Linked DNA regions of Homo sapiens: region 1 is linked to region 2. The links come from fine-mapping of genetic effects on plasma protein levels. A gene starts in region 2. The other region holds a variant in brackets. All regions are shown on one strand. Distances are between the middles of the regions. Region 1 has its middle 26 kb from the start of ATOX1-AS1. Region 2 holds the start of SPARC (secreted protein acidic and cysteine rich).

The links. PIP is the posterior inclusion probability: the model's chance that the variant is causal. Sun 2018 read protein levels with aptamers (SomaScan).
Region 1: its variant is fine-mapped to the plasma level of the SPARC protein (Sun 2018, PIP 0.95).

The regions. Positions count from the first base shown.
Region 1 is chr5:151,718,868-151,734,970 of GRCh38, reverse strand. No RefSeq gene overlaps it. Among named protein-coding and RNA genes, the nearest start is that of ATOX1-AS1, 26 kb to the left of the region's middle. RefSeq lists enhancers at 4,994-5,530, 13,216-13,265, 13,286-13,355, 13,616-13,875, 13,946-14,125 and silencers at 12,677-12,877, 13,337-13,537, 14,368-14,477, 15,409-15,703. The variant AAGAAAGAAAGAG/G (reference allele first, on the strand shown) is at 3,000.
Region 2 is chr5:151,677,339-151,693,868 of GRCh38, reverse strand. It overlaps SPARC (secreted protein acidic and cysteine rich), which reads left to right and starts at 6,954. Exons shown (of 10, transcript NM_003118.4): 1 at 6,954-7,004. It overlaps CLMAT3 (colorectal liver metastasis associated transcript 3), which reads right to left. Exons shown (of 5, transcript NR_109873.1): 2 at 14,533-14,649; 3 at 14,113-14,213; 4 at 7,918-8,040; 5 at 5,959-7,487. RefSeq lists enhancers at 6,186-7,013, 7,014-7,843, 8,672-9,501.

The sequences.
Region 1 (16,103 bases), 41 kb before region 2:
CTTCCTCTGATGTTAATGTGTTATATGACTATGACATATTTGTCAAAACTAAGATCTAATTGGTACATTGGTACCAAAGCTCCTTGGCACATTGGTTTTTGTTTTGTTTGAGATGGAGTCTCACTCTGTTGCCCAGGCTGGAGTGCAGTAGAGTGATCTTGGCTCAACTGCAACCTCTGCCTCCCAGATTCAAGCAATTCTCCCGCCTCAGCCTGCCTGGCTAATTTTTTTTTTTCTTTTTTTAAGACGGAGTCTTGCTCTGTCACCAGGCTGGAGTACAGTGGCGCTATCTCGGCTCACTGCAACTTCCGCCTCCCTGGTTCAGGCTATTCTCCTGCCTTAGCCTCCCGAGTAGATGGAATTACAGGCACGCACCACCATGCTCAGCTAATTTTTGTATTTTTAGTAGAGACAGGGTTTCACCATGTTGGACAGGATGGTCTTGATCTCCTGACCTTGTGATCCACCCACCTCGGCCTCCCAAAGTGCTGGGATTACAACCGTGAGCCACCACTCCCGACCTAATTTTTGTATTTTTAGTAGAGATGAGGCTTTGCCATGTTGGCCAGGCTGGAATCGAACTTGTGACCTCAGGTGATCTGCCCATCTCGGCCTCCCAAAGTGCTGGGATGACAGGTGTGAGCAACTGCTTGGCCGGTACAGTGTCAACTGGACTCCAGATGTTATTTGGATTTTACCAGCTTTCTCATAAGTGTTCTCTTTCTGGCCACAGATCTAATCCAGGGTACCACATTGCCTTTAGTCATCAGGTCTCCTTCATCTCCTCTGACCTTTGAGAGTTTAGCAGTCATTTCTTGTTTTTCATGACTTTAATAGTTGTGAAGACTATTGGCCAAGTATTATATAGCCTGTCCCTCTAATTTGGTTTGTCTGGCATGTTTCTCACGATTAAACTGGAGTTGGGGGAGGAACATACACAGAGGTAAAGTCTCCATCTTATTTCATTGTCTCAGGGGGTGCATAGATACTGACATGATCTATTACTGATGATGTTAGGGTTCCTGGCAAACTCCTGGCCATGAGGTTCCTGGAAAACTCTCAAAGATCAGAGAAGATTAAGAAGACCTGATGACTAAACCCGATGTGGTACACTGGATTGGATCTGTGTCCAGAAACTTACCATTTTTTCCTTTTCATTCTCTATTCTCAGGAAGCAAGTCACTAAGTCCAGCCATATTCAAGGGTGCATATGGAAATAAACTCCACTCCCCGAAGGGAGAAATATGTTGTCTGGAATTCTAAGAAGATTTGTCCCTTCTTGCCCATTTAAGTGACTGGAAAGTATTTATTGGTTACAAAAATACTGATTTTAGTGGCTGGAAAGCATTCCACTGTGCAAATGCACCTTAATTTGTTTAGCTAATTTATACAGAGTGGTGCATGCATATAGTTCACCGGCACTACACATCAATTCCAACCTCTTTCCTGTGTGCTTTCCCACATATGAGGCTGGAAGGCCAAGCCCCACGTGAACCTAATTTCCTGGTAGTTAAGTTTCTCATTGAAATTAGGTTTCACTGGCCGGGCGCGGTGGTTCACGCCTGTAATCCTAGCACTTTGGGAGGCCGAGGCAGGTGGATTGCCTGAGTTCAGGAGTTCGAGACCAGCCCGGGCAACACAGTGAAATCCTGTCTTTACTAAAATACAAAAAATTAGCTGGGCATGGGGGCATAAGCCTGTAATCCCAGCTACTCGGGAGGCTGAGACAGGAGAATCGCTTGAACCCAGGAGACGGAGATTGCAGTGAGCTGAGATCGTGCCACTGCATTCCAGCCTGGGTGACAGAGCAGAACTCCATCTCAAAAAAAAAAAAAAAAAATTAAGTTTCATTGATTAGGTTCACTCCTGCTAGATTTGGAAGGTGGAAATCAGGAAAAGCCATTGTCCCACAGATTTTGGCTGTTCCAGCCCAGCATGGAGACATTGGTTATTTGGCAGCAGTGTTCCCGTGTCTAGTCACTAGTTTCGTACGTGTTGAGAGGTGCTGGTGGCTGTGATTTCCTGACCCCTTGGATCACAGCCATGGCAGTGCCTACTTGAACTTCATAGTCCAGCAGCCACCCTCTGCTTCCCTGCCCTCCTGATGGGGCAATGTGGCTGCCCCTCTGGTAGCCAGTTCACCTATACTGCTCTGAGAGTCATAATGCTGGAAGCTCAGCCTCAGCCCCTTCCTCCTGCCCTTCCAATCCTTTTGTAAGCACCTGATGAAGTCCCTTTCTGAGCTCAGGTCGTGCCTGTGCCCCACAACTGAACTCAGATGGATAGAATGATCTATTAATAGGTTGTTTCCAGAACTTATTAAAGTGTATATGGTCTGGTATCAGGTAACTCAGTATTTCCTAGGAATAAAATCCTACAAGTGGAACTGTTAGAGCCCTTTCACTGTGCATATGGCTAAAGTAAAGCAACAGAGAAGTGCAGGTACTTGTCTGAGTTCACATAGGGAAATGGGAGCAGCTTGGGGTGCTCCTTCCATTAATTCATGCTGCTTTGTCATGGTCATTAAACACCCCTGGCGTTTTTCAGGTGAAGAGGACCAACTCAGTTTATTCAAATAACTTGTGAGAGAGACTGCTAATTTTCTATTCAAAAGTCTTTCGGCCGGGCACAGTGGCTCATGCCTGTAATCCCAGCACTTTGGGAGGCCAAGGCTGGCGGATCATCTGAGACCACCCTGACCAACATGGAGAAACCCTGTCTCTACTAAAAATACAAAATTAGCTGGGTGTGGTGGCGCATGCCTATAATCCCCGCTACTTGGGAGGTGAGGCAGGAGAATCGCTTGAACCTGGGAGGTGGAGGTTGTGGTGAGCCGAGATCGCGCCATTGCACTCCAGCCTGGGCAACAAGAGCAAGACTCCATCTCAAGAAGAAAGAGAGAGAGAGAGAGGGAGGGAGGGAGGGAGAGAGAGAGAGAGAGAAAGAAAAGAAAGAAAGAAAGAAAGAAAGAAAGAAAGAAAGAAAGAAAGAAAGAAAGA[AAGAAAGAAAGAG/G]AAAGAAAGAAAGAAAAAGGAAGGAAGGAAGAAAAAGGAAGGAAGGAAGGAAGAGAGAAGGAAAGCCTTTCATCCCCTTTTCCTTAGTAATTTATGGCTGGGCACATGGCAACCTAAAATAAAGACGACATTCCCTAGTTTCCTGTTCCCCTAAGTGTGACATATAACTAAGTTCTGGCTAATGCGATGCAAATAAATTCCAGAAAGACTCCTTAAAATGAGCTGATGCAATTAGAAGGCCCTCACCATTCTTTATTCTTCCTCCTGCCTGAAATAAGGATGTAATCTAGTAGCCGTATCAGGCCATGATGTCACCTTCCTTAGCACTTGAAGCCGTGGCCTAAGGATAGTACCTGGGTCTCCAAAGATTATTCTTCTTATTATTATTAATTTATTATTTTTTAGAGATGGGGGTCTCACTCTGTTGCCCAGGCCAAAGTGCAGTGCTGAGGGCATAGCTCACTGCAACCTCAAACTCTTGGGCTCAAGTGATCCTCCTGCCTCAGCCTTTAGAGTAGCTGAGACTACAGGTATGCACCATGGCACTTAGCTAGAAGATGATGGATTCTATACATGAGCCTTAAACTATTTCCAGATTTTGTTTCTATGTGAGAATGAAATAATCTTCATTTTTGTTACAGCTACTGTTACTTTGAGCTTACTGGTATATACATACAGCTGAACCTAACACTAACTGATACATAAGCTTGTGCTTCCCTGATTTCTTCCACCCACCTGCCATATGCTTGCTTTCATTTGCCCATAATACCAAGATACGCAGGCCTAAAGTCAAGATTGGGATCTGCAGCAGTTGCTTTCACAAGGTCCTGGTTTTTTTGGTGTGTGTGTGTGTGTGTGTGTGTGTGTGTGTGTGTGTGTGTGTGTTTGTGTGTGTGATCTTGAGCCACTTTAACCGCCTGGGTCTCAGTTTCCACAACTTTAAAAGGAAGGGGTTAGGCTGGACATGATGGCTGATGCCTGTAATCCCAACACTTTAGGAGGCCAAGGCAGAAGGATTGCTTGAGGCCAGGAGTTCAAGACCAGCCTGGGCAACATAGTGAGACCCCAACTCTAAAAAAATTTTAAAAATTAGCCAGGTGGTGGCACCTGCCTGTAGTCCTAGCTACTCAGGAGGCTGAGGTGAGAGGATTGCTTGAACCCAGGAGACTGGGGCTGCAGGAAGCTATGATCACACCACGGCACTCAGCCTGGGTGACAGACTGAGACCTTGTCTCAATAATAATAATAATAATAATAAAACAAATGAAGGGGTTGGTCTAGATCAAAGATTGGCACACGACAGCCTGCAGGCCAAATCAAGCCACCATCTGTTTTTGTAAATAAAGTTTTATTGAAACACAGTCATATTCATTTTTGTATTATCTATGGCTGCTTCCACACTATAACAGCTGAGTTGGAGAATGGCAACGAAGACCATTTGGCCCACATAGCCTAGACTGTTTACTATTTTGCCCTTTTCAGAAGAAAATTGTCTGTCCATTGTTGCGGGAAGTCACAGACCCTGAATGGAGAGACCGGCTGAAGCCGCGGCAGAAGAACATAAATTGTGAAGATTTAATGGACATTTATCAGTTCCCAAAATTAATACTTTTATAATTTCTTACGCCTGTTTTTACTGCAGTCTCGGAACATAAAGTGTGAAGATTTCATGGACATTTATCACTTCCCCAATCAATACCCTTGTGATTTCCTATGCTTGTCTTTACTTTAATCTCTTAATCCTGTCATCTTCATAAGCTGAGGATGCATGTCACTTCAGGACCCTGTGATGACTGCGTTAACTGTACAAATTGTTTGTAAAGCATATGTGTTTGAACAATATGAAATCAGTGCACCCTGAAAAAGAACAGAATAACAGCAATTTTCAGGGAACAAGGGAGATAACCATAAGGTCTGACTGCCTGCGGGGTTGGGCAGAATAGAGCCATATTTTTCTTCTCACAGAAAGCCTATAGATGGATGTGCAAGTAGGAGAAATATCGCTGAATTCTTTTCCCAACAAGGAATATTAATAATTGATAGCCCTGGGGAAGGAATGCATTCCTGGGGGAGGTCTATGAATGGCCGCTCTGGGAATGTCTGTCTTATGCGGTAGAGATAAGGACTGAAATATGCCCTGGTCTCCTGCAGTGCCCTCAGGCTTGCTAGGACTGGGAAATTCCAGCCTGGTGAATTCTAGTCAGACCAGTTGTCTGCTCTCGAACTCTGTTTCCTGTTAAGATGTTTATCAAGACAATGCATGCACAGCGGGACACAGACTCTCATCAGTAATTCTAATTTTGCCCTTGCCTTGTGATCTTTTATTGCCCTTTGAAGCATGTGATCCTTGTGACCTACTCCCTGTTCGTACATCCCCTCCCCTTTTAAAATCCCTAATAAAAACTTGCTGGTTTTGTGGCTTGGGGTTGCCATCACAGTCCTACCAATATGCGATGACACCCCCGGAGGCCCAGCTGTAAAATTTCTCTCTTTGTACTCTTTCTCTTTATTTCTCAGACTGGCCGACACTTAGGGAAAATATAAAGAACCGAAATTGAAATATTGGGGGCTGGTTCCCCCAATAATCCATGGTCTAGATCAGTGATTTCAAACTGTTCTACAGAGACCTAAGGCTCTGTGCAGGTACCTCAGGGAAAAGGGAGGAACTGAGAGTGGGGCTCCAACCCCTGGCATCTTCCTACCAAGACTACACCTCTTATTTGTTGAAATTAACTAGTTGAGGCCAGTCACGGTGGCTCATGCCTGTAATCCCAGCACTTTGGGAGGCCGCGGCGGTGGATCACCTGAGGTCAAGAATTCAAGACCAGCCTGGCCAACATGGTGAAACCCTGTCTCTACTAAAAATACAAAAATTAGCCGGGCATGGTGGCATGTGCCTATAATCCCAGCTACTCCAGAGGCTGAGACAGGAGAATAGCTTGAACCCGGGAAGCAGAGGATGCAGTGAGCCAAGATCACATCACTGCACTCCAGCCTGGGCAACAAAGAGTGAAACTCCATCTCAAAAAAAAAAAAAAAAAGAAATTAACTAGCTGGATTTTATTTAAATATTTTATTATGGAAGTTTCCAAAAATATCTGAAAGTAAAGTGAATAATATCATGAACCCCATACACTCATCTCCCAGCTTCAAGAATTACCAAGTCATAGCCGGTTTCGGTGCATCTTCCACTGCCCGCCCCCACCCCACACAGGGTTATTCTGAAACAAACACCAGCATCATTTAATTTTATTATTGTATTTCTTTTTTCTTTTCTTTTCTTTCTTTCTTTTTTTTTTTTTTTTTGAGATGGAGTCTTGCTCTGTTGCTCAGGCTGGAGTGCAGTGGCGCAACCTTGGCTGACTGCAACCTCTGCCTTCTGAGTTCAAGCAATTCTCTTGCCTCAACCTCCTGAGTAGCAGGGGCTACTGGCACACACCACCACACCCGGCTAATTTTTGTATTATTGTATTTCTTCTGAGAGATAGGATTTAAAAAAAAAACCTATCCATCATGACACCTAAAAGTTAATACAAATTTCTTAATATCATAAAATATCCAGTGCTCAAATTTCCTCTATTGTTATTTATTTATTCTTTTCTTAAGCCCTTGGTTTGTTCAAATCAGGATGCAAACAAAGTCCATACATTGCATTTGATTGATGTTTCTTAAGTCTTTCAGTCTGTAGCAACCCTACTCCTGCCCTTTTTTGTTTTTCTCCGCAAATTATCTGTTGAGGAAGTTGGGTCTTCTGTGCAGGAGGGTCTTCTGTAATTCTGGATTTTACTGAGTGCACCCCATAATGCAATGTGTTCCTTAGTCCCCTCAAGTTCCTGTAAAATGGTGGTTAGGTTTATACTTCATCAGAACCACCTTTGATTTTTTGCTGACAATCTTTCATAGACGGTGCTATGAAATCCTCTTATATCATATCAGGCAGCACATAATATCTGCTTGTCTTTCTGTGTGTAATATCAAGATGGATGGATGGATTCAGATGTTGTCAGCCTAGTCCATCCATTATAAACTCCCCATCAGCTCTTCAACTCATGGTTTTAGCAGACATTGATGATTATTGTTGCACCCATTATTTTTTTAATCACAAAAGTCATACATGTAGGCTGAGAATGGTGGCTCACGCCTGTAATCCCAGCACTTTGAGAGGCTGAGATGGGTGGATCACTTGAGGCCAGGAGTTCGAGACCAGCCTGGTCAACATGGTGAAACTCCATCTCTACTAAAACTACAAAAATTAGCTGGGTGTGGTGGCACACGCCTGTAATCCCAGCTACTCGAGAGGCTGAGGCATAAGAATCTCTTGAACCTGCGAGGCAGAGGCTGCAGTGAGCCAAGACTGTGCCATTGCACTCCAGCCTGGGTGACACAGCAAGCGTCTGTCTCAAAAAAAAAAAAAAAAGTCATACATGTAAAATTGTAAAAAAAAAAAACCCAAATATCCATCCAAAGGAGACTGAAAAGATAAAAGCAGTAATTATATCACACTGTATTTATACATCAGGCAATATAGCAGTCAGAATTTAAAATCTAAATATATCATTTGGGGAGGCATACATATGTGTTAAAAGTAAAAAATATGTATAGGAATGATAAACTCCAAATGTAAGGTATTGTTTACTTCTTTTTGTATGGGAGAATGAGGAATAGGACTGGGTTTCAATTATATATATGATTCAATCATATATATATATATATATATATATATATATATATATATATATATACACACACACACACACACACACATTTTGTTTATTAACAGAGGTCTGTCTGAACTATTTATTGCAAAATGTTAAGATTTGTCAAAGCCAGAAGGTGTTAACTTTATCTCTGTAGTTTCTTTGTAAGTTTAAAATATAATTTTTTAAAAAAGGACTTGACATATAAACATGGAAAATATTGCCAACTCAAAAGGATGCATAATAAAAAATATATTCTGTTCATTTCAGACCCATGGTTCTCCTCCTCGGAGACACTGATTATTACCCATTTCATATGCATCTTTCAGGAATTGTCTATGTAAATGAAAGACTTAATATCCAAAAGAGCTGCTCCTTTCAGAAAAACCACTTTAAAACATTTTTCATTTTTCGGGACTTGCTCTATTGCCTAGGTGCAGTGATACAATCATAGCTCACTGCAGCCTCAAACTCCTGGGCTCGAGCAATCCTCCCACCTCACCCTCCTGCATATTTGGGACTACAGGTACATACCATGCCCAGCTAATTCAGAAAAACCATGAGCCATCTTTACACACATGGACATCTGACTGCACCCACCCATGTGGGAGGCAGCCTATAGACTGAGGCCTTCCATCTGGAGAGTCCACTTTGTGAGCTTTTATTTTGGAGACTCCCTGGAAACCAGTCTTTGTTTTCCCTGTCAACGGACCTGAAGCTATCTGGTTAGTCTTTTCTTTTTTTTCTTTTTTCTTTTCTTTTCTTTTCTTGTTTGAGATGGAGTCTTGCTGTCACTCAGGCTGGAGTGCAGTGGTGCGATCTCGGCTCACTGCAACCTCTACCTCCTGGGTTCAAGTCTCCCAAATAGCTGGGATTACGGGTGCCTGCCACCATGCTTGGCTAATTTTTTTTTTTTTTTTTAGTAGAGACGGGGTTTCACCATGTTAGCCAGACTGGTCTTGAACTCCTGACCTCAGGTGATCTGCCCGCCTCGGCCTCCCAAAGTACTAGAATTACAGGCATGAGCCACCATGTCCGGCCTGGTTAGTCTTTTCTGATTGGTGATCTCATAGGCCTTGTCTGTTAAACTAGCGTCAGCTTTGGGGAGTGGCTGCTTATCTCTTCAAGTTTCCTCTCCAGGAGGAAGGGTTACTAGGATCAATTTTCATATGCCAAACAATCTGTATTTAAGTCAGACCACCCCAAGTATATCCTCCAAGTTTGGTGAAAATCAGCCCAGCTATTTTCTTATGATGGAGTAGACAAGTCACAAACTTCATTTTATTATGTGGACAAATCCCCCCCTGCTCTGACCTTTGGGGGTGGGGGAAAGAGAGAGTAAAGAACTTAAAAAAATGAGAGCACACTCAGTTCACTGTTCTGTACTTGCCTTTTCCCCCACTTTTTACTGCACCTTGAGATAGTTTCATGTTTCGTATCAGTTCATATGGTTTTGCCCTCGTATTTAAAGTACAAATACTGGCCGGGTGTGGTAGCTCATGCCTGTAATCCCAGCACTTTGGGAGGCCGAGGTGGGCAGATCATGAGGTCAGGAGTTCGAGACCAGCCTGACCAACATGGTGAAACCCCATCTCTACTAAAGATATAAAAATTAGCTGGGCCTGGTGGCACATGCCTGTAATCCCAGCTACTCGGGAGGCTGAGGCAGGAGAATCGCTTGAACCTGGGAGGCGGAGGTTGCAGTAAGCCGAGATCCCACCATTGCACTCCAGCCTGGGCAACAGAGTGTGACTCTGTTTCAAAAAAATTAAATAAAAATAAATAAGTAAAGTACAAATACTGGTTGTTTTATTTGTGAATATATTGGCTTATTAACATGGGCTAAAATTAGTAATAATAATCTACCTATTCTTTCTAAAATAACATGTTGACTTCTGTTAAGTATAGGGTGACCAACTCATTCCTTTGCCTGGAATTTTCCGTTTTAGCACTTAAAGTCCTATATCCCAGGAAACCCTTCAGTTCTAAGCAAACTGGGATATTTGGTCACCATATTTAAGTTCCAAATAAACATTGGACAAGTTTGAATAGGAGGTGGCACATTTTAACAAAACAAGTAGTAATCTTGGTCTTTGCCCTAAAATGGAACTGTTAACCAAATACTGTCCATATAAAGTAAAGATTTTCTCAGAACTTGTGCTATTATTGTTGGGAGGTGCCTCACGCTTTTAGACAGCAGAATAGTATTCCATTGTATGACTTCACCATCATCTTATTAAATCTGTTCCTTACTGATGGACTTTTCGTGTCTTTCCAGTGTTGTGCTACAATAAACAAGTCTGCCATAAATGTCTTTATTCATCTGTTCTGTAAACTGGCAAATTCTGTGTAACAATTTGTTTTGAAAATAAGGTCTTCCTGCTAAAAACAAAACTCAAAAAGCCACAGGATTAAAGAGTCTTTCATCTTGGGCCTTCTGTGAGTCTCCTTTTCTTCAGGTGACTGACTGGGCTTCGCATGGGTGTAAAATGGGTTGGCAGCTAAGGCCTTGGGAAGAAAGCCCAGGCAAAGAGGAGAGGCTTCCTGGGGTGCATGAGGGAGAAAAACAGCCCACTGCTGTGGTTCCCAGCATGAGGGGGTTGTTTATCAAGGCGCTGGAAGAGGAGTTGGCTAGACTTTGAGAGGTCCAGTGTTGGCCAGGAGCAGGACTGAAAGACTGGAACCATTCAGCTGTCTTCTAAAAGGAGGAGAGAAAGGAAGGAAAAACAAGTCAAGACACACACTGGGTGGCTGCCGGCTGGCCAGGGCTCTTGGTACAATAAGTCTGGTGCCAGGCTGTAGGGCCCAGCCAGCTATCCCTGGGGAACCCATCCCAGACTGGTTTAGATCATTTCTGCAGTGGCTTCTTGGGGCTATTAGAAATGGATTTTTACAGAGTCAGAGATAATGCAGTACTTTTCCAGAGGGATGGCTACCTGGGCCAGAAAGGTGATTTTCCAGCCATGTTGTCTATCCTATGTGTATTAATACATCCTTTATCCATCAAAGAGGCGGCTAGTATCATTTGCCAAACTGTTTCGTGCAGAATGCTATTAGTGAAACATGAGGTCTCAAAGCCAAAAAAGTTTGAAAAATGCCAGGCCCATCAAAATCAAGCAAAATAATTTACTGTAGAAATTTGCAGATCCTTCAAGGTACTAATACTGTAATTGAGACTTTTCAAAAAGGAGATAAAGTATGAACTTGTTTCCCAAGTTTTTAGTCCTTGGAACACCTTTTTCTCCCCCACAGAACACACAGTCACATCTTTGCTAATGTTGTCTGCTAATTCTAACCTATAGGAAAAGGGAGAAGCCAATAGGCCTGACCCAAAAACTTCCAAGAATCTGAGACAAAGAAGGCTATGGAATCTGGCCAGTGAGCTATCTTGGACACTGCCATGTCCTACACAAAAGCATGACGGGCATCTGTCATAATATAAAATAATTGATTTTTGGCCAGGCGTGGTGGCTCACACCTGTAATCCCAGCACTTTGGGAGGCCGAGGGGGATGGATCACTTGAGGACAGGAGTTTGAGACCAGCCTAGCCAATATGGCCAAACCCCATCTCTACTAAAAATACAAAAAAATTAGCCAGGCATGGTGGCTGGCACCTATAGTCCCAGCTACTTAGAGGCTGAGGTGGGGGAATCGCTTGAACCTGGGAGGTGGAGGCTGCAGTGAGCTGAGATTGTGTCACTGCACTCCAGTCTGGGCAGTAGAGTGAGACTCTGTCTTAAAAATAAATAAATAATTGACTTTCATGAGCATGAAGGATTCTCCAGAAATTGAGTTAGGTGCAGCCGCATGCTGGTCAGAACAGTCTAGCAAAGATGGCAAAGAGAGCTGGGGCTCGCCTGCATCTCTGCATTTCACACCTCTGATCTCGAGACTCAGCATCACCCTTGGCCACAGTGATCTCCAAGGGCCTCTGTGTGTCAGGCTCAGGGCACACAGTAGCTATGGGGGAGATGCCCTGGTGCAGGGTTCTGAGGAGGCCTACAAAGATCACTTCATCCAATCGGCATCCCCACTGTGTCACTCTGTGTCTGACTCCATCTTTGCTGATGTGTTTGTGTTAAAATGCAAAGCCATCTGGGAAGAACCATTGTCAGAATCCTTGGTAGCATCCTTCCCCTGAGATTTGGGTGGAAAGAGGCAGGTTTTGTGTTTGTTGAAGATAAAATGTCCTGTACTAGAGACTGTATTTGCAAGTCTTTCCCATCCTTGAGCCATTGCACAAGGCTGGTACCTTGTATCTAGGATTGCTTCCCCTGAAATGGATTGGAAAATAAAATGTTAAAATGTTAAAAAGTCAGAGAGAACATGAGTTCTAGTCCACTCTACCTCTAATTTGCTGGTTGACATTAGAAAATCCTTTTGCATATATACATACATCAAAACATCATGTTGTACACCATAAATACATACAATTTTTATTTGTCAGTTTTAAAATAAGGAAGTTCTTTCCCCTCTCTGACTTCATGTTCTTCCTCTGTAAAATGAAGGGGTCAGACTATTTCAGTTATTGGCCAACTTTTTTATTAGAAGAAGCCTTCTGTCAAGCAAAGTCTTAAGGAGCATCTCAAATAAAACAGATAAAAGTAGTCTCTGACCAAAATGTTTTTAAGGAAATGTTATGTCATTACTGTATAACAGGATATGTTTACTATACAAATTGGGACAGAGGTTGCTTTTAGAAGCAAGGAGGTAGTTGTGATTGGGACAGGGCACACAGAGAGCTTCTGGGGTGGCTGCAAAATGTTATTTTTTGACCTGAGTGGTTTCCTTGACCTGAGTGGTTTTCCTTAGGGTTATTCAGTAAGCTATTTTTATATTTATATTATGAATGCATTATAAAGTCAATTACTGAGAACACAAATGTGTCCATTAGATTTAGCTGCAAAAGGCAGAAAACCCCAAATAGAAGTGGCCTCAATAAGACAGAATTGTATGTCTCTTTTATGTAAATGAAATCTGGAGGTGAGCAGTCCAGGGCACTCACTGTAGGGAAGTGAGTCAGCAAGGTAACTCAGTGATCATCAGGACCAAGCCTCCTTCTCTCTATCAATTCAAAGTCCAAGATGACTGATTGAGTTCTGCCATCATGTCCACATTAGAGCTAGCTAGAAGAGGAATGAGAAGAGCATTCCCATTCACTTGAAGAAAACTCCCATAAGTCACACTCACAACCTTTGCTTACAACCCACTGACTAAAGCTTAACTGCACTGCCTTACCTATCTGCAAGGAAGGCTGGGAGATGTAGTTTAATCAGGGCACTATGGCCCCACTCAAGTGTAGTTTCTACAACAAAGGGAAAGGGGACCACTAGCAAAATCTGCCACAATGTATAAATGAATTTTGGTCTCTGATGTGTTCACATTTGACAGATGACTGATTTAGGTGTCTTTGTTGTTTTGCAGCCACAGTTTTAAATGCAGTCTCTGGTATACAAAATAAGGTGAATATTAATAGTTTGTGGAACTGCAGAAGTACAGAATGTGACTTAAAACCCCTGAACTAGAAACTCCCTGAGAGCTTTTCCAGCTTTGACATTCCAGAATTCTGTGGAAGTCCTGCCCACATATATGAGCTTACAGAGGTTTTCCTCTCTGGAGATTGGCAAGGGTGTTCTTGTTACCTTCAGGACTGAGAACTGTGCTCATTGTTTAAGTTAGCACAGCCCTAGCCAAGTATCATGAAAAGCGCTCTGTCATTCAGCAGTCTTCCCCCTTGGGCTGGGAGTTCCCCAGAGGTGGTATAGTTTACTGAGGCATTGAAAACTCAGGCATCCAAGCAGTAACAGCTTCTTAGTGGGGAGTGGCTCAGACTTTCCCTCCACAGTTTCAGAGATTGTTGTAGTAGAAGAGTCTACCCTTGATTCAACCCTTTTCATTTTTCAGAGGAGGAAGCATGGATCCAGAGAGGCTGAGAGATTTACTTGACGTGACCAGCAACTTATAGCAGGACTGGGCCTAGTACCAACTTGTTCTGATACTTTCTTTTTTGTCATTTTACAGATGAAACTGCAACCTAGAAAGGTAGCTTGCCCAGAGCCACATTGTTACTCAGAATAGATCAGAATTTGAATGCATACAATGCACGGCAGAGACTACACTTTAGCCTCTATGCTAAGAACTACTGCCTCCCACTGTGTGAGGACAGACTTTACTATGGGAGCAGGAACACTTCATCACACCACTTAGATGTCACATCCCTTCAGATCACCCTTTGCTCCAATTCTGTACTCCTTCATCAACCTCTTGATGTCTAATTCAACACCTTGGCATAGGGAATAATATGGCTTTAGGTGTAGAAACAAACTTTCTGCTAGTGCAAAAGCTCATCCTCCAGATGAGGGGGATGGGACATGTTGGTATTTTCCAGGAGCATCTGTCTTTCTCTGTGCAGCAATCCCCCAACACTGCAAACTGATCAGACGGAGCTTCAAAACCTGCAAAGGTTATGACCCTAGGTAGTGGGGACCACAACCTGTGGAGTCCTAATTAGGGAAAAGGAGTCAGGCTGGTGGGAGCAGGGGAAAGAAAAAAGAAAAAGTAGATAAGCTATACATCTGCCTTTCTTCATGGTCCAGGACACATAGCCCTCCTGTGCAAATAACTCACAATCTTCCTGTGCCCAACTATCACCAGACACCTCGGCTGATAGAATAATGTACATTAGCTCACTGCAACCTTGGCATTATCTGTACTGTACAAAGCCCTCTTCAGCACACAGCACAAGCACCATCCTAAAAAATCCCCAGCAAGCCTTTGACTCCTTGCAGTCAGCTACTCTCTTGCTGACTTACCCATTGCACCCTTGCAACATACTTTCATACTTCCTCTAACAAATCTGCTTTGCTGACCTACAACTGTCTTGGTAAATTCTTTCTACCACCTGCGTAGCACTGGCCCAAATAGTCACTACCTGAGACACAACTTCCCTGAAAAGCAGTGCCATCTCTGGGAGCTGCCCAAGCAACCTTCAAGTCTCTCTTTGCTGCAGCTTTCTAGGTTGTGCACAGTGGCACTACAGCAGCAAGGCCTTCCTGCCTGCTATCACTTACTTTTCCCTAGGCAAAGGGGCTGGGGGAAACATCCATTGGGTCTCCTGGACAACAGGAAAGTCTCAGGATAAGAGGCACTTTGGAGAATCACTGGAGCAACTCTAGCAGTTCAGCTAGTTGGCTCTTCAGGATTCTCCTTGTCCTCCAGCACAGAAGGCTTTTAATCCAGACAGAGGTGGAGGGAGGGTGGGATGAGCTAACGGGCCTGAGAGGAGACTTTGTATCTTAGAAGACATTCCAGAAGGACCTAGAGACAGAGGGTGTTGTTTTTGTCCTTATTCCGACAACTCTTCTGAGAGGATAGTTGGGGCTGGAGGATGCTGTGCAGCCTGTTTAGAGGGCAGGGAAGTTGAAACAGTGTGAGGGAACCAGTAGAGCTGACCTCCTGCCTCTGTAAAGAACATGACCCTGGGAAATCCCAAAGCTTCACATGGCCCAGTCTGTGAAGAGCCACATTGAAGAAAACAAAGTGTTACAGTTACAAATCATTTAAAAGTGCTACAATCTTCATTTTTATATCTCTAAGAGTATTAAAAGGGATCTAATTAATAATTCATAGAAAACTCCATTTCAGGCTGGGTGTAGTGGTTCACGCCTATAATCCCAGCACTTTGGGAGGCCAAGGCAGGAGGATTGCTTGAGCCCAGGAGTTAGAGACCAGCCTGGGCAACAGGCTCTATTAAAAAAATTTAAAAATTAACTGGCATGGTGGTGCACACCTATAGTCCCAGCCACTAGGGGGTGCTGAGGTAGAAGAATCACTTGACCCTGGGAGGTTGAGGCTGCAGTGAGCCATGTTCGTGCCACTGCACTTCAGCCTGGGCAACAGAACGAGACCCCTGTCTCAAAAACAAAACAAAAAACTCCATTTTGACCAGACACTGGTTCATGCCCGTAATCTCAGCACTTTGGGAGGCCAAGACAGGAGGATGGCTTGTGACCAGGAGTTCAAAACCAGCCCTGGCAAGATAGTGAGACCCTGTCTCTACAAAAAATTTAAAAACTAGCTGAGCGTGGTGACATGTGCCTGTAGGCCCACCTACTTGGGAGGCTGAGGCGGGACGATCACTTAAGCCCAGGAGTTCAAAGTTATAGTGAGCTATGGTTGTGCCACTGCATTCCAGCCTGGGTGATAGAGCAAGACTCTGTCTCAAAAAAACAAAAAAACTGAGATCTTACTGATTCCAGAATTTTCTCATGCTCACATTGATGCTTAGTCTTTCCCCCACTCACCTCCCTGGCCCTCTCCAGGAAAGAGAAAAAGTCTTGAAGAGGCCCAGCCCCTTGAAGAATGTAGTTCTTCACATGCCTCAAAAGAGTAAGG
Region 2 (16,530 bases):
TGGGGGCAGGGAGGCAGCCATGGCCAGAAGGGCAGAATGGGCAGTTGAGTACCTGGGGAAGTCATGGAGAGAGGGCTCTGGAGTGGAGCTACCTGTGTGTGTTCCTGGCTTCTCCACTGTGGGACCTTGACCAAGTGATTTAGTTCTCAGAACTTTTCTTTACTCATCTTTAAAATGAGAATGGTAATTGTACCCATCTATGGTAGACAAAGTAATGGCCCCTCCAAAGATGGACGTGCCCTAATCCTCAGAACCTATAAACAGGCTATCTTACATGGCAGAGGGGGCTTTGCAGATTAATTTAAGGATTTAAAGGTGGGAAGATTATTTTAGGTTATTTAGGTGGGCCCAATGTAATGACAAGGGTTCTTAAAAGTTGAAGGCCAGAGGGTCAAAGTCAGGAAAAGATGTCAAGGCAGAAGCAGAGTTGGAGTGATGTGCTTAGAAGACAGAGTGAGGGTTCACAAGCCAAGGAATGAGGGTGGCCTCTAGAAACTGAAAAAGGTAAGAAAATAGGCAGGGCACAGTGGCTTATGCCTGTAATCCCAGCACTTTGGGAGGCCCAGGCAGGCAGATCACCTGAGGTCAGGAGTTTGAGACCAGCCTGACCAAAATGGAGAAACCCTGTCTCTACTAAAAATACAAAATTAGCCAGATGTGGTGGCACATGCCTGTAATCCCAGCTACTCTCGAGGCTGAGGCAGGAGAATTGCTTGAACCCGGGAGGTGGAGGTGGCGGTGCGGCAAGATTGCACCATTGCACTCTAGCATGGGCATCAAGAGTGAAACTCTGTCTCAAAAAACAAAACAACAACAACAAAAAGGTAAGGAAACAGATTCTTTCCTCAACAGATTCATCCTTCCTCCGGAAGGAACCCAACGACACCTTGATTTTAGGACTTCTGACCTCCAAAACTATAAGATAATAAATTTGTGTTGTTTTTAAGTCACCAAATTTGTGGTAATTTACTATAGTAATGATAGAAAAACAAATATTCTGCATAAGTGTTGTTGAGTTAAATGAGATAATGGACATAAAGTGTTTTGCCCACCATCTGCTTTGTAATATTGAATATGATTGTCTGCCTTCTCAGTTTAGTGACAATTGCTCCAATGAAACCTGGTCCCTCATGGGCCCTCAAGTTCTCCTATGTAAGTTTTGTTGAGTTTTTTTAACCCGAAAGGCTCACTCAGGAGTTATGACCTGGAGATCTGAACTGCTGAGATCCCGATGCTGTTTTTAATGCATGGCCTTAGGGGATGTTTCTTTGTCCGGCTTTTATTTGTTTAACTTTATGCTTGGTTGCTTTCCTCCTTGCCAGAAGCCAAATCCACAGAGCCTTCCTGCTCTATTTCCAGAGTTCAGACCTCTTGCTCCCTGTGCAAGTATTCCTGTCCCTGTGTAGGAATAGTTTACCTGGCCCCAGTCCAGCTCCCAGAGATGGTTCATCAGGTGGTCCATAGGCTGGTCTCAGAGCTAGTGACAGAGTCTCTGGAGTCAGTGAGCAGAAAGACAAGCAGGTTCTTGGTGTGGTTAAGAATCTGGTTTTTAGCCAGGAGTCAGGAGACCTGGTTTTGAGCCCCAGCTTCCCTGAGTGATAGAGGCCTCAGTTTCTCCATATCTACACTATAGGTTCTAATCCCTACCCTAACTCTTTCACAGGACTGCTGTGGCATTCACTGAGATAGTGGACAAGAAAGTATGTTGAAGTGGCTAAAAGGGTGTAAAAAGGGTAGGAATGAACAACAGGAAAATGGAGGAGAAAAGGACGAGGAAGAACGGGAGGAGATGGGAAATCTCCCCCAGTAGGTAATTCTAGCCACACTTTCAGTTACTTGAAAAAGCCAAGCTCTCCTCACATCAGGGTTTTGGTGCTTGTTCTCCCCTCTCCTTGAGTACTCTTCTCTCAGCCCTTCTCATTGACTCATGCTTCAACATCTTCCTCATCTTGCCTCCTCCAAGATGCCTATGCTAATGACCCTATCTGAAGTCATCCTCCATTGCTTTTTCATTTCATCTTCCTTGTTTCTTCCATAGAACTGATCACAACCTGAAATGAGCTCACGGCCTGCCTTCACCTATTGGAATGTAAAGTGCAAGAGGGCAGAGCCTTGTCTGTCCTATTTATTGCTATATCCCCAGTGCCTGATGCAAAGCACAATAAAGACTGAATGAACGAACGAGGTAGCTGATGTACTGGGGGTGTACGGAGCCTGGATGGCAGGCACATGTGGACATTTCCCAGGCAGTCCCTTGAGTTCTAAGGCTGTGGCTGGGGTGCTAGGTCAGGAGGGCAGGATCAGGGTAAAGTGAGAAGTGCCTAGAAGAGCATAGCTGGAGAGTGGTTGGAGAGGGCAGTGGGCAGGCAGCAGGGACCCCAATATACTGATGGATTGCTTTACAAGATGAAAAGCTGATTCAGCCTAATGTTGGATCAGCAACATTCTTGACTCGGGAGAGGGGTGTATGGTCTGAAGTCCACGTATGTCAGAGCTGGAGAGGAGTTGAGGGGGAAGTAGCGTGCAGTAGTCAAGCACTTGGGCTCTGGTGTCCCTTAAACCTGGATTTGAATCTCTGATTTACCATATACTTGGTGCATAAGCTTGAGCAAATTATTGATATGAACTTCATTTTCCACATTTATAAAATGGGAATAATAACAGTTCCAGATTTATAAGAGTTAAGTCAGACAATATATGCAAAGAGCTTAGCAGGTGCTTGGCACATAGTAGGTGTTTAATAAATGCTGGCTCTTATTACTACTATTCTGCTGTCCAACCTATTTTATAAATGAAAAGGTGTAGGGTCAGGTACAATGGCTCATGCTTGTAATACTAGCACATTGGGAGGCCAAGGCAGGAGGATTGCTTGAGGCCAGGAGTTCAAGACCAGCCTGGGCAACCTAGCAAGACCTTGCCTCTATTAACACAATTAAAAAGAAAGAAAGAAAAGGTGTAGTTCAGAGGGGCAGGGATGGGCCCAAAGTCACTCAGTGACTCAATAGCAGAGTGGGACTCACACCCAGGTCTATCACACCTGGCTGCGTTGTGCTTCTCTCCCTTCCTATAAAGCCCTTGGCAGGTGGCAGGAAGACCAGCCTTAGTCCTAGTGGTCTTCCTTTCTAGGTCAGAGTCATCCTTGCTTCAGAGGCTCCTGTTGCCCCAGGATGCTTTTTTTTTTTTTTTTTTTTTTTTTTGCCTTTTGAGGTGGAGTTTCACTCTTGTTGCCCAGGCTGGAGTGCAATGGTGCTATCTCAGCTCACTGCAACCTCCGCCTCCTGAGTTCAAGCAGTTCTGCCTCAGCTTCCCAAGTAGCTGGGATTACAGGCGTGAGCCACCAAGCCTGGCTAATTTTGTATTTTTAGTAGAGACGGGGTTTCACTATGTTGGTCAGCCTGGTCACCGAACTCCTGACCTCAGGTGATCCACCCACCTCTGCCTCCCAAAGTGTTGGGATTACAGGTGTGAGCCACTGCACCCAGCCATGTGCTCTTATCCTTAGATATAAAACCTACCAAGTTTTCTTTCTGGGAGTGATTCTGGCTCAGGGTGTCCCCACAGAGACCTGGAAGTGGCCCTCAGGAGGGATCTCTCTTCCAGAGCTTCAGCCCAGCCCCAACCAGACTTCCACTTCCTGAACTGAAAGCCACATGGGAACACCAGCCAAAAACTGGGAAGAGTTCCACTGGTTCATCCTCATCAGAATCATCATTTTAGTTTATGAATAAAAATACAAAGCTTCTGCTAATTTTAGTCCCATAATGCCTGGGAGCTATAGCAACCAATCCTATAAAAATATACATCTGTCCGGATGGCAAAACAGATATGTGGAGAGTCCACCAGCACCCTGTATTCAGCAGCCAAAAGCACTTGGCTTTTGAACCAGGGTGAGAGGCCTTGGGGGGTCTTTATTTATTTATTTAGAGACGGAGTCTTGCTCTGTCTCCAAGGCTAGAGTGCAATGGTGCCATCTCGGCTCACTGCAACCTCCGCCTCTTGGGTTCAAGCGATTCTCCTGCCTCAGCCTCCCATGTAGCTGGGATTACAGGCACGTGCCATGATGCCCAACTAATTTCTTTTGTATTTCTAGTAGAGACAGGGTTTTGCCATGTTGGCCAGCCTGGTGTCGAACTCCTGACCGCAGGTGATCTACCTGCCTCAGCCTCCCAAAGGGCTGGAATTACAGGAGTGAGCCACCATGCCTGGCCTTATTATTATTATTATTATTTTATTATTATTACAGACAGCATCTTGCTCTGTCACCGAGGCTAGTCTCAGGCTTCTGGCCTTAAGCAATCCTCCTGCTTCAGCCTCAGAGTAGCTGGGACTCCAGGAACATACTACTGCACCCGGCCCTTGGGGGTCATTTGGAGAAGACTCCTTCTTGGGTGTTTGTGGATTTTTCTGCAGAGAAAGTTCATTGCTTCCTTTAGGTTCTCAAAAGGACCAAACACCCTAACTTTTATATTCCACTTTAGTGGTTTGAGGGTCTCTTGGGTGTGGGGCAGTGTTCCAGGCTGGAACCCTAGTAAAAGACAACCCTCTCTTTTTTCAGATGGGCAAGTCGGAAGTTCATATATTTATTGAATAAAATATTGCAAGCCAGCTTTGTGTGGGGCACTGGTCAACATGCTGGGAACAAAGCAGTAAACAGACATGTGAAGTCCCTGCTCTCACCAAGCTTCTGTCTAGTTGGGGAAACAAATGGTTTCTGAGAATGACAGGTGATGGGGAGGAAATAAAACAGTGTAAGGCGATGAACTGTGCCTGTGAGAGAGGCAAGTAGATTGAGTGGCCCTAAGGAGGTGACATTAGAATAGGCACAGGAAAATCAGGTGGAAGAGTGTCTCTGGCAGAGGTAAGAGCAAATGCAAAGATACTGGGCATGGTGGCTCAGACTTGTAATCCCAACACTTAGAGAGGCCAAGGCGGGCGGATCACTTGTGGTCAGGAGTTCGAGACCAGTCTGGCCAACATGGTGAAACCCTGTCTCTACTAAAAATACAAAAATTAGCCTGGTGTGGTGGTGCATGCCTGTAATCCCAGCTTCTTGAGAGGCTGAGGCAGCAGAATCACTTGAACCCAGGAGGTGGAGGTTGCAGTGAGTTGAGATTGCGCCACAGCCCTCCAGCCTGGGCAACAAAGTGAGAGTCTGTCTCAAAAAAAAAAAAAAAATCCTGGGGTGGGAGAAGCTTTGGGGTAGTTGAAGGACTGGAAGGAAGTTGGCATGGCTGGAGCAGCGTGGGCACAGAGGACAGTGGTAGGAGGAGAGAATGGCAAGAGAGACAGGGGCCACAGCGGATGGAAGTGTATCATGAGGGTGTTCTCTGCCTTCTTCCTTTCCATGGTATTCAAACCCAACCCATGCTTCCAGGTCCACCTCTTTCAGGAATCCACCAATCTGAAGCCCTGGGATAAGCCTTAGAGTCTGTACCACTCATGTAAGTGGGTGTATGTGTAAGGCACAACCTTTCAGCAAGATCCAAAGCTCCTTGAATAGTGAGTTATCTCGATTGATTGTTCACAGTCACAGATTGAATTCCTTGTACTTTTTTTCCCTTCTCAGTTCTGCACTTAACTCGTCTAAAAAAATTAAAAAAGAATTTAAGAAACCACAAAGCTAAGCTGGGTGCGGTGGCTCACGCCTGTAATCCTAGCACTTTGGGAAGCCAAGGCATTCGGATTGCCCAAGCTCAGGAGTTCGAGACCAGCCTGGGCAACATGTTGAAACCCCATTTCTACTAAAAATACAATAAATTAGCTGGGTGTTGTGGCATGTGCGCCTGTAATCCCAGCTACTCTGGAGGCTGAGGCGCGATAATTGCTTGAACCCGGGAGGCAGAGGTTGCAGTGAGCCGAAATCATACCACTGCACTCCAGCCTGGGCGACAGAGTGAGTGAGACTCTGTCTCAAAACAAAACAAAACAAACAAACAAAAAAACCGGAAACCACAAAACTTTTTGAGGACAAGGACCAGGTATTTATTAATTCTCATACCTCCCAGAGTGTTAGGCACAAAATAAACATTCAACCAAGACCTGTTGCACTGAGCAGTTCATATATAACAGGAGTGACCCAAGTTGAAACGTAGAATCAGCCCTCTCATACCACTTTTTGCCAGGTGATCATAGGCAAGTTACTTAGCATCTATGTTTCCTTATTATTAAAATGGTCATAATTACAATGCCTAAGATAAGGGGTTGCTGTGAAGATTATTAAATCCTCAGTAAACTTTGGCTATTGTTACTCCTATGATTATCATCAATATCATCAATTACCTTATCTGTTCAATACTGGTGGCACAGGTCCACCAGCTAGATGTCTAATCCCTTATGTGTCTATTAGTGGTACAAGTGGAGTTTGAGTGGGATTTTTTTTTTTAAGACCAGTTCCAAATCATCAAGGATGATACCACTAGTAGCAGCTTGTCTTGTCTGTACAGTGGTAAGTCCTGGCCTTGCCTTTGTGGCAAATACAACCCCCTTGAATTGCTTGGCCCTTCTCAGCATTGCCTAATATTAGGGAGGACTCCTGTAAAGCTCACTGGTTAGAAGATCAAGACACTTGGGCCTGGTTCTGCCCCTGGGGGCCATTGGGTAATTCCTTGCAGTCTCCAGGCCTCACTTGCCCTCTGAACAAGAAAGAGGCTGTTCTGGGTCATCCCTCCAGGCCTGTCCAGCCCTGGCACTCTGTGAGTCGGTTTAGGCAGCAGCCCCGGAACAGATGAGGCAGGCAGGGTTGGGACGTTTGGTCAGGACAGCCCACCGCAAAAAGAGGAGGAAAGAAATGAAAGACAGAGACAGCTTTGGCTATGGGAGAAGGAGGAGGCCGGGGGAAGGAGGAGACAGGAGGAGGAGGGACCACGGGGTGGAGGGGAGATAGACCCAGCCCAGAGCTCTGAGTGGTTTCCTGTTGCCTGTCTCTAAACCCCTCCACATTCCCGCGGTCCTTCAGACTGCCCGGAGAGCGCGCTCTGCCTGCCGCCTGCCTGCCTGCCACTGAGGTATGTGTGACCCCCGCCCAGCCTTTCCCTTCTATAGTTGCACCAACCCCGACACCCCCGTTCACGCCGTCAGCTCGTGTGCAAGGGAGGGAAGCTCTGCTGAGGATGCGCCTCTCCTCCCGGCTCCATCACGGCTCCCCTTAAGAGCATGGCCCTCGGTCCTGTCTGCCTGTTGCTTTTCAGAAGGTGGACTCACTGTGTAACTTTGTCTTCCCTTACAGGTTTACAGAAAATAATCTCACTATGTCTTCGGGGGAGCATTTTCTCACTCTCTGTTTTTCTCTGTGTCTGTCTCTGGTTTCAGAGGCTGCCTGCCTGTCCTCTTTGCTCCCTTTGCAAATGTGGCAGCCTCCTCCTTTCCTGGGAATCTGATCCCATCACAGCTGCCACAGGGACCTGGCCAGCAACCGGAGTCTGTCCTCCAGATCTCGGTCAGGGGTTCTGTTTTCCAAAAGGGACTTTGCACGAACAATCAGTTGATCTCTGAAAGGCAAAGGGGGAGGCTTCACCATTAATCCACACCTCTGGGAAGCCTTCTGTTTTCCTCTAATTCTCCTCACTCCCAAACACCACCTTCCGTCCCCCCAATACACAAATTTCAGCACCATTCTGCCTGAAATGGCACCATCACAACCTCAGTCTTGGGTTAGGTGTTGTTCCTGTCCTGAGTTCCTTGGGATGGTAAACACAGGCAGTAGCCCTTAGTTTATCTAGATCTGAAAACCCAGACATCAGATATCGTCAACCAAGACATGGGTGTAATGGGAGGTGGAGTGTGCTGGGGGAGATATTCTCAGAAGGGGGAAAGGGGGAAGGGAAGAGGGAGAGAATTCCAGGGTCCCCTTCCGTAATCCACCCAAGACTAGTGTCCAGCCTGTCAGGGTGTCAGTTCTTCTTCAGACAAATCCACTACCTTTCTTCGCCGCCACTGGCTCCGTGAACTGGCTGTCAAGTGGACTTCCTTAGGGAAAGGGACTCCAAGGACTCCAAGGGAAGGGGGGCACTGGGATGAGTTATGTCTTCCAGGATTCCCAGTCTGCCCAAAAGGGAACAGAGAGGCATGCATTTTCCTCAGGAAAGGACAGCATTTTTTTCATTAGAGAAAATGTTTTCTCTAGTAATGCTTTAGAGTTAAATTTCTATACGCCCCAAGTGCTGGTGGTTTAGTGAGAAGCAAAGCAGAAGTAGGACACAGGCTTCGGGCATGCATTTTATGTGTGATCTTAGGTAAGTGTCTCCCCTGGATTTAGTGCCCCATCTGTAATGAAAGAAGGCTGAAACTGAAGGCTCTTTGGGGTGCTTTGTGTCCTCTAAAATATTCAAAGGAAGATTTCTTAACCAGGGTCTATGGAGTGGTCTTTGAATGGGCCTCAAGCCATCTCTAAGCCCCTAAAAATTGTATGCACTGTGTGTGTGTGTGTGTGTGTGTGTGTGTGTGTGTGAGAGAGAGAGGGAGAGAGAGAGAGAGAGAGGATGAATATGGGTGGTCACAGCTTTCAGCTTTAAGATATTCTCAAATGGATTAGAGGGCATGACGTGGGGATGGAGTGAGGACTGGTAACAAATGTGTGTATTTGCTGGAGGATGAAGCCTTCTGAAAAGGGAGTGGTTGAGGAAAGAGAGAGTTAACTCTCAGCTATCAGCTGCCACATCGACATAGCCTAGAGCAAAGAGGGGGAGGGAGGAGAAGAAGGGGGTTGCCTGGAGAAGGAATCAACTTTTGAAACTTTCTCCAAGTCCCACCCACCAGAAGGCTCTTCTCTGCCTGACTCACTCTCCGAGGAATGCGAGTTGCCACGGTAACCTTTTTTTCAGGGTCTCTGCCTGCTGGCTGGAGGGGACCCTTGAAACCCTCTAAGAACATCAGTCTGAACGTACCCCACCCCCAAATTCAAGGCCTGCAGCAAATTCTAGGCCCTGCCCTTGTGATCTCTCAGGATTCCGGGGAAGCCTTGGGCCATGATAATCTCCTTGCAAGGGTGTTTGAAGACCTGGGTTTTAGCTCTGGCTGTGCCCTGAAGGTACCATTTGACCTTGAACTAATACTTCTTTCTGGGCCCCATTCCCTCTACAGTTAAAGAACAGTAACAGCAGCCACCTCTAGGGGGTAGATAGTGTGTAGAAGAAATGGGATAATGCACAGGGAAGCACTTTGCGAATTGTGGCATTCCCTCATAATGCAAAGGGTTTTAGAACTGATGGATTAAAGGCATCCAAAGACCTAGTGAAATCATTCTCAGCTTTTTTTTTTTTTTTTTTTCCTGGCAGCTCCATCATCTTGGGGTTTGTATAGAACTTTCCTTTACTAGAAGTACTGACAGGAAAAATTTTAAAATCATAATATTGTTTATCTTCATTTTGATTTGGGGAACTTCTTGTGTATTTCCCAAGACTGTTGTGCCCTCTATGTAGGAAAAGCATTGGCCAAGGGTGAAAAAAAAAAAAAAAAGTGTGTTCTAACTCCCAGTGCCTGACATTGGGAAAGACACTTCCTCTCTTGAGGCTGCAGTTTCCCAAACTGTTAAATAGAGTTTCTAAGCTAGATGATTTCCCAGGCACCCTTCTAACTCTGAAGTCCTATAAACCTAAATCCCAGATACCGCTTTTATTCAAAGGAATAGCTTGCCTGCATTTTTAACACCGCCTTACTGCACCCCCAGTTGAAAAGAAAACAAGAAAAGATGGGCTAGGGGATCTTGAGTTGCATAACCATCATGCTGTAATCCTTATCCATCTGTAGAGATTTGTCAATCAACAGTGTGGCTGGGGTTTGCTATTCATGAGAGCAGCTTTCCTTGCTGAAAACAAGCTATAAATAAGAAAGAATGGTGAAGGAAAGGAAAGAGCTGAGGATGTGAGGTAAACAGTAGAATATTTGGCTTTTGAAGTTGTTTATGTAGGTAGATAAATATGCAGAGATAAACAGGGACAGGTACAAACCCATAGGGATGAAGAGTATAAACATCGATTTCATCAACAGGCACCCACTGGCTCAGCTAAAAATAAGTGCCTCATTACAGGAGCAGACACAGAAAGTCATTCACTCACACACCTCTTCCTGGATGACAATGATTTACAGACAAGTTCCAGGAATATATCTCAATGAATGTGAAAATTCTGACCCTCGCCTATTACAGGCTGAAACAGACAGATGCTAAGTCAGGCTGTATGTAACTTACACAGACATGCCATCAGGTATACAAACACACACCGCCACTTGCAGCCACACATGGATGGATGTGCACAGTCAAACATATGCACAGTCAAACATAATATGGATCATGACAATGAGACAGACGTGTAACCTACATTTATCACCAACCACCTCTATGTCTCAGAGAGAGAGAAACTGAGGCTCAGGAAGAGAAAATAACTCACTGGAGGTCACATAGCAAGCTGGCGTCTGAGCCAAACTTCCACGTGTTTGGAGCCATTTTGATATTCACCTTGCCTTCCCCCCCAATCCCCATTTGTTCAGTTTGGAAACACACTTATGCACACAAGCCCCATGGATACTAAGTGGTGAGCAGCACTTTGTCTCTCCCGTTGGCTGGCCTGCAATGCCTATTCCAGCCCACGTGGCTTTGTCATTAGGCCCAAAGGCCCTGCATGATGTGCCTGTAGGCGGCTGCTCCCTTGCTTCTAGCTGGCTCCCTCCCAAACGTCAGTTTCAAAGGAGAGAAGGGAAAACCAGCCTTGAGCTTTCAGCAACCCTGAGGACCTTGTTTCTACAGCACAGACCCTGATGCCTCCCTCCCTCCCTCCCTCCCTCCCAACCTCAATCCTGAACCCAGGGACAGCTGGGCTGTGCAGGGCCAGGGCCAGCAAGTAGTGACTTGACGGAATTATTTAGAGAAACAGCCTCTCCTCAACTGGCAGCTTAGACAGGAAATCATCTCTGCTCTCACCCATCAAGCTATAGAACTTTATGTCTGCAAGGAAAACATGAACATAGACAACAATTGTTGTCAGAGCTGGTTTCTTTCAGAAACTTGGTATTAACTTCTCTCATCTGGGGATCACTCTGGGTCATCTTGATGTTAGTCATGGCATTAGGATTTCAGACCTATCAGATAAAAAAAGCAAAGCAAACATCTGGATGTTTTTGAACATCTGGAAATTTGGCTTAGACACCAGCTTGCCGTGTGACCTCCAGTGAGGTATTTTCCTTCTCTAAGCCTCAATTTCTCTACCTCTACAATAAGAGGCAGCACACAGAGGTTTCATGTGGCCTGACAACATCACTAATTCATCGGTAGTGGCTGTCAGAAGAACTGTGTTCAGGATTCTGATGACTCTCTAAGCTTTAGGAGAAGAGGTCAAGCGATTGATTAGTAATGTCTGCCACATGTGCAGGAGGGGTAGGTGGAGGCCACGTGTTTGTCACATATGCCACATATTTGCTATCTTTGGGATCTCGGAGGCTTTTCCAGATGCAATAGCCTGGACACTTTGATGTTATTTCTCATCCTTTCATTTGTGGTCACCACAATGCAGCAGCGGTGCCCTAGAGGGAGCCAAGGATGAAGCCTGAAGCTCCACCCCAGCCTCTGCTAGCCACAGTGAAATGTGGCATCTCAGATGTCTTTATGGAATCTCGGGCTGATTCCAGCCCCAAACTCTGGAGCCACCTCTGAGTTGCCCCAGAAGCTCTCCAGTCCTAAGTTTTAGCTACCACACCTTAAAAGTTTCCTTTAGCGTCTTTCCTTCCAGCAGGAAATAGAAGTGGAAGCAGGGAGTCAAGGGGCAAGTGGAGAGAGGTAAGGCTCTAAAAAGCTTCTGCCCAAGTTGATCCGGAAAATCAGAGCTGAAAAGAACCTAAAGGACCACCTTGCCTAAGGGTTCCATATTGTGTTCCTAGGAGAAAGTACAGATGTTCCAAGGTATCTTAGGGAATGTCCCTGTGTGTAGGACTCCCACTCCTCAGCTCCACTCCACTTTTATCTGCTTTTCTTTTTTGTGGATTTTTTTGAGAGGGAGTTTCACTCTTGTTGCCCAGGCGAGAGTGCAATGGCACAATCTTGGCTCACTGCAACCTCTGCCTCCCAGGTTCAAGTGACTCTCCTGCCTCAGCCTCCCGAGTTGCTGGGATTTTAGGCGCCCGCCACCATGCCCGGCTAATTTTTTGTATTTTTAGTAGAGACGGGGTTTCATCATGTTGGCCAGGCTGGTCTCGAACTGCTGACCTCAGGTGATCTACCCTCCTTGGCCTCCCAAAGTGCTGGGATTACAGGCGTGAGCCATTGCGCCCAGCCTGCTCTTGTTTTTTAATTTCACACTTATTGATTAACTAGATAATACTCATTCACATGGTTCAGTACATGCTAAAAGATTTCAGCTGTTTGAAATATCGGACTCTGCAGAAGACTTCATTGAAATAAAGGATTTTCTGGCTTACATAATTTTGAGCACTGACCTTATACAGACAAGCTGGGGGTGTTAGTTCTGGAGAGCAGAGGAGACTCCCCTGAATTCGCACAGTGAGCTGGGAGACATGCTGACTTGCTCTCAGCTCTCCTGACTTCCACGTCATGAGGCCACCTCTGAGCTGCTGTGTCTGCTCCCAGGGGTGTGAGCAGGAGTGCCATTGTAGCTGCATGTGGCCACCTCTCTGGCCTGCCTGGCTCGGTCCCCATGTCAGCAGACCCCAGGCTCCTTCCGAGTCCCAACTCCCTGGAGGGCCTGGCTCTTGGCTTCCTTTATTAGCCTCTAGGCTTGTTTTCCTCTCTTTGGGCTTGTTTACCAGCAACATGTGTTTTTGGAGCCCTTGTTTCCAAGCCAAATAGTGAGAGTGAGATGCTTGGCTGGTATCAGCTGCCCAAGTAAGAGGCCAGCCCTGGGCCTGGTCTTCGTCACTGTATCCTCTGGAGGCTGGACTTACCCAGACCAACAGGGGCAATATGTCCTTTGTTCCACCCAAACACCCCTTTCTCCCTGGGCTTATAAAGCACTGGAATTTTGCACTGAATTCTTTCGGGGGATGGAGATTCTGGGAACCTCGGACTTTATAAGATGCTCTTCCCAACGACAACATTGCTTACCTCTTTATTTGGATTCTCTTGTGTAAATCACCCATGAGCCTTTAAAGATTGGTATGTTATTGTTTCCATTTTACACATTGGGGAACAAATTGAGGCCCCAAGAGGTAAAGTTGATTTCTAAAGGTCATACAATTACTAAGTGGTGAGCCAGGATTTGAACCTGTATATTCTGGCTCCAGAGCCTATGAGCTTACCTTTATGCTATACTGCCTCATAGTTTATTATCACTCTGTCTACCATGGTAGCCACTAGCCACATGTGGCTATTTAGATTTAAGTTGATTAAAATAGATGGGCATGGTGGCTCACGCCTATAATCCCACCTCTTTGGGAGGCTGAGGCGGGCGGATGGCTTGAGGTCAGGAGTTCGAGACCAGCCTGGGCAACATAATGAAGCCCCATCTCTACAAAAAAGAAAAGAAAAGAAAAATTCGCTGGGTGTAGTCACAAGTGCCTGTGATCTCAGCTACTCGGGAGGCTGAGATGGGAGAATCACTTGAGCCCAGGAGGCAGAGGTTGCAGTGAGCTGAGATTGCGCCAACCACACTCCAGTCTGGGTGACAGAGGGAGACCGTGTCTCAAAAAAAAAAAAAAAAAAAAAAAAAAAAGATGTTTTCCACTATTCTCTATTGCAGTATTTCAACAAGGTATGGGTTAAGTAAGATATTTTGGATTGGCCTCAGTCCTTTTGCATAAAATTTTTAAATAAAAAAATTGGTTAAAATGAAATACAATTTAAAACTCAGTTCTTCATTTGCACTGGCAACATTTCAAGCATTCAGTAACCACTTGTAACCAGTAGCTATCATAGTGGACCACGTAGATATAGAATGTGTTCATCATCTTGGGAAGTCCTGTTGGGTTGCATTACTCCATAAGTTCTTTCCACCCAAATAAGATTTAATGATGGCAACTCAGTTTCTTTGCTTCACATCCTAAGTCTATCATTCTGAGACCCACAGTCCATGATTCTATGATTCTGAGGTATCCCCCCTGTTCTAACGTTCAGTGGCTTTTTAACGTCCAAGGAGAGCCCAAAGGAGGCCCTTTATGTTTTGAGGGACAAACCTGGGGGCTGGCTGTACTTTTCCATCCTCAGAGTCTTTCCAGAGAGAGAAGTGACCTCAGCTTCAGGTCCTGCTGGCAGCCAAGGACGGGTTTTCAGCAGTCTCCAGAGCAAATAAAGGCAAAAGGAAGGGACTCGATGTACGGAACAGGAGGCAGTGGCGGCTGGGAGGGGGCTAAAACTGTCTGCATTTGATGGCCACCATGCCAAGGGAAATATGCCTTCTCTTCCTCCCCTGGCCCTGGGCATTTTCCTTCCCAGGAACTCAGGCCAGTTCAAGGCCCAACTGAGCCCCATTCAGGTGACCACCTGGGAGCGGGTAGCTGCCAAGGGAAATAGTGTGCAGAGGTAGAGACATACCAGTGGTGGGGTAGGGTTGCACGGGTTCTCACCCTAGCCCTGCCACCCAGTCACTCACTCACTGCTGTTAGCCGTTGGCAGTTTTCTCCTTTCCTCTAGGCCTTGGTCTTCTCATCTGTACTATTGGGCAGAAATATGTGACTTGAGCCCCCAGTGGGGTGCTGGATTATGAAAACACCCTGAAAATGATAAATGTATGCATCATCACAGACTAAAGAAATACAAAGGAGGGAGTTTTTGTTTAATATTGGTCATTTATATGAAGGGAATTTAAATTTTCGCCAGGCACGCTACACCTAGGTTTGATTGGCAAAGGATCACAGCTGTGAGTTCTGAATGCTGGGGTTTGATACTGTGTTCTGACCTTGCTGGGGTGACTGTTATACTCCATTAGCTTTGCAGGATGGACACAGGGCTCTTTGGTCAGTGGTAGTTTAGAGAGCCTCAGAGAGGTATCTCGTGGGGAGGCAGGGAGATGGCTGTGCATCTGGAATAGTTCAGCCGCTTCCCTTCCCTCCCATCTCATCATCTGGGGGAAAAGTGCTCTTGGACTGGTGGTGTAGCACCGGGTGCTGGGCAGGACCCAGATTTTGTGTTTGTGTTTACAGTTTTCTTCCAAAACTTTTAAGGTGTATTCCAAGATTTTGCGTTCTGTTCTTAACAGTCTCTCTGCATTTCTCCCCCACTCCCACTTGTCTGAGCGTAATTCCTATTAGGCTCACCCCAACTCCATGAGTGAGAACGCTTGCCTATTTGGAGAGGGCCTGAATTGTTGCATGACTTTGGACAAGTGCTTCCTCCCTCTCAACCTCAGATTCCCCATTAGGACAGTGGGACTAAGAACCCTTCCATGCCTGTCTGCCTACTTCCCAGCATTGTCAGAAGGCTCTAGGAGACAGTGTTATGTGACAGTGCTTTAGAAACTATGAAGCAGCACTATAAGACTTAGAGTTATTTTTCTCTTCTGGCTGCAACAGCAGGGATGGGGGTGGCAGGGAGGGTGAGTGTGCAGCTGGAAAAGGAATTCAGGAAGATGAGGAGGCAGGACAGACAGAAGAGCCGCCCAGCGAAACCTTCCCCTGGTCACAGAGGGGAGCGCGGTTACTCTGCTCATATGAAGGACGCAGACTCAGGGAAATGTCTGTCTTCCTGTCTTTCTAATCTGAAGCTTACTACATTTCCAGTCCTAGCTGGGCTATTTCTTCAATAACATGACTTCCCTGTCATTATAGCTCAGACAGGGTAACTTTTTGTTTTGTTTTGTTTTAGCTGCTATTTCACTTTGATCCTTCAACCTCAAACTATCTCAGACAAGTCCTTCCTTGATGTTTTCTTTTCTGTTCCATTTGTCCCAAGCCACATGCAGGAGTTATTTATCTTGCGTCTTCCAAAAGGGGAAGCAAGAAGGGAGATTTTTCCACTTAAGCCTGGGGAACAAGTGAACAACTGTGTGAGGGGAGGAACATTCCACAAGCTGCCTCAAAAGGGAAGACTAGACTCCTCTGGAAGTTGGGGTTATTGTGAAGCAATACCAAACCCCCAGGTCCTTTACATTTCTGTTAGTTTTACTTCATTCACTCTGTGCAATAGGGGGTGAGGTTTTGTGTCTCTTTAAGCCCAAGAAAGGACCATTATGAAGTGGGCTCTTCCTCTGCCTGTTTCTGCTTCCCAAATGCTATAGTACAAGTGAAGACATATGATCCCAGAGGAGACCATATGTGTCAAGACCAGAATGTGCTTGGGGTGTCTTAAGAGCATTTTAAGGACCGAGGCTGCCACTTCAAAGTTCACCTAGTCTACCCATTTCAATTGATAGATGGGGGAACCAAGGTCTAGAGAGACCAAAAGACTTGATACTACTGTGGTAGAACAAGACCCCCTGGCATTTAATTTCAAGCTGAGTATTTTTCTCCATGATGCCGGGTTACCTCCCACCACCATTTGGTCAGTTGAGAAGTCTTGGAAGAAATAAGGGATGATGAGCCTGACAGGGAGGTTTTGGGAGAAGAAAGAGGGAAGACATGGCCACTGTTGCTCCTGATGGAAGGTTATTTGTGGGT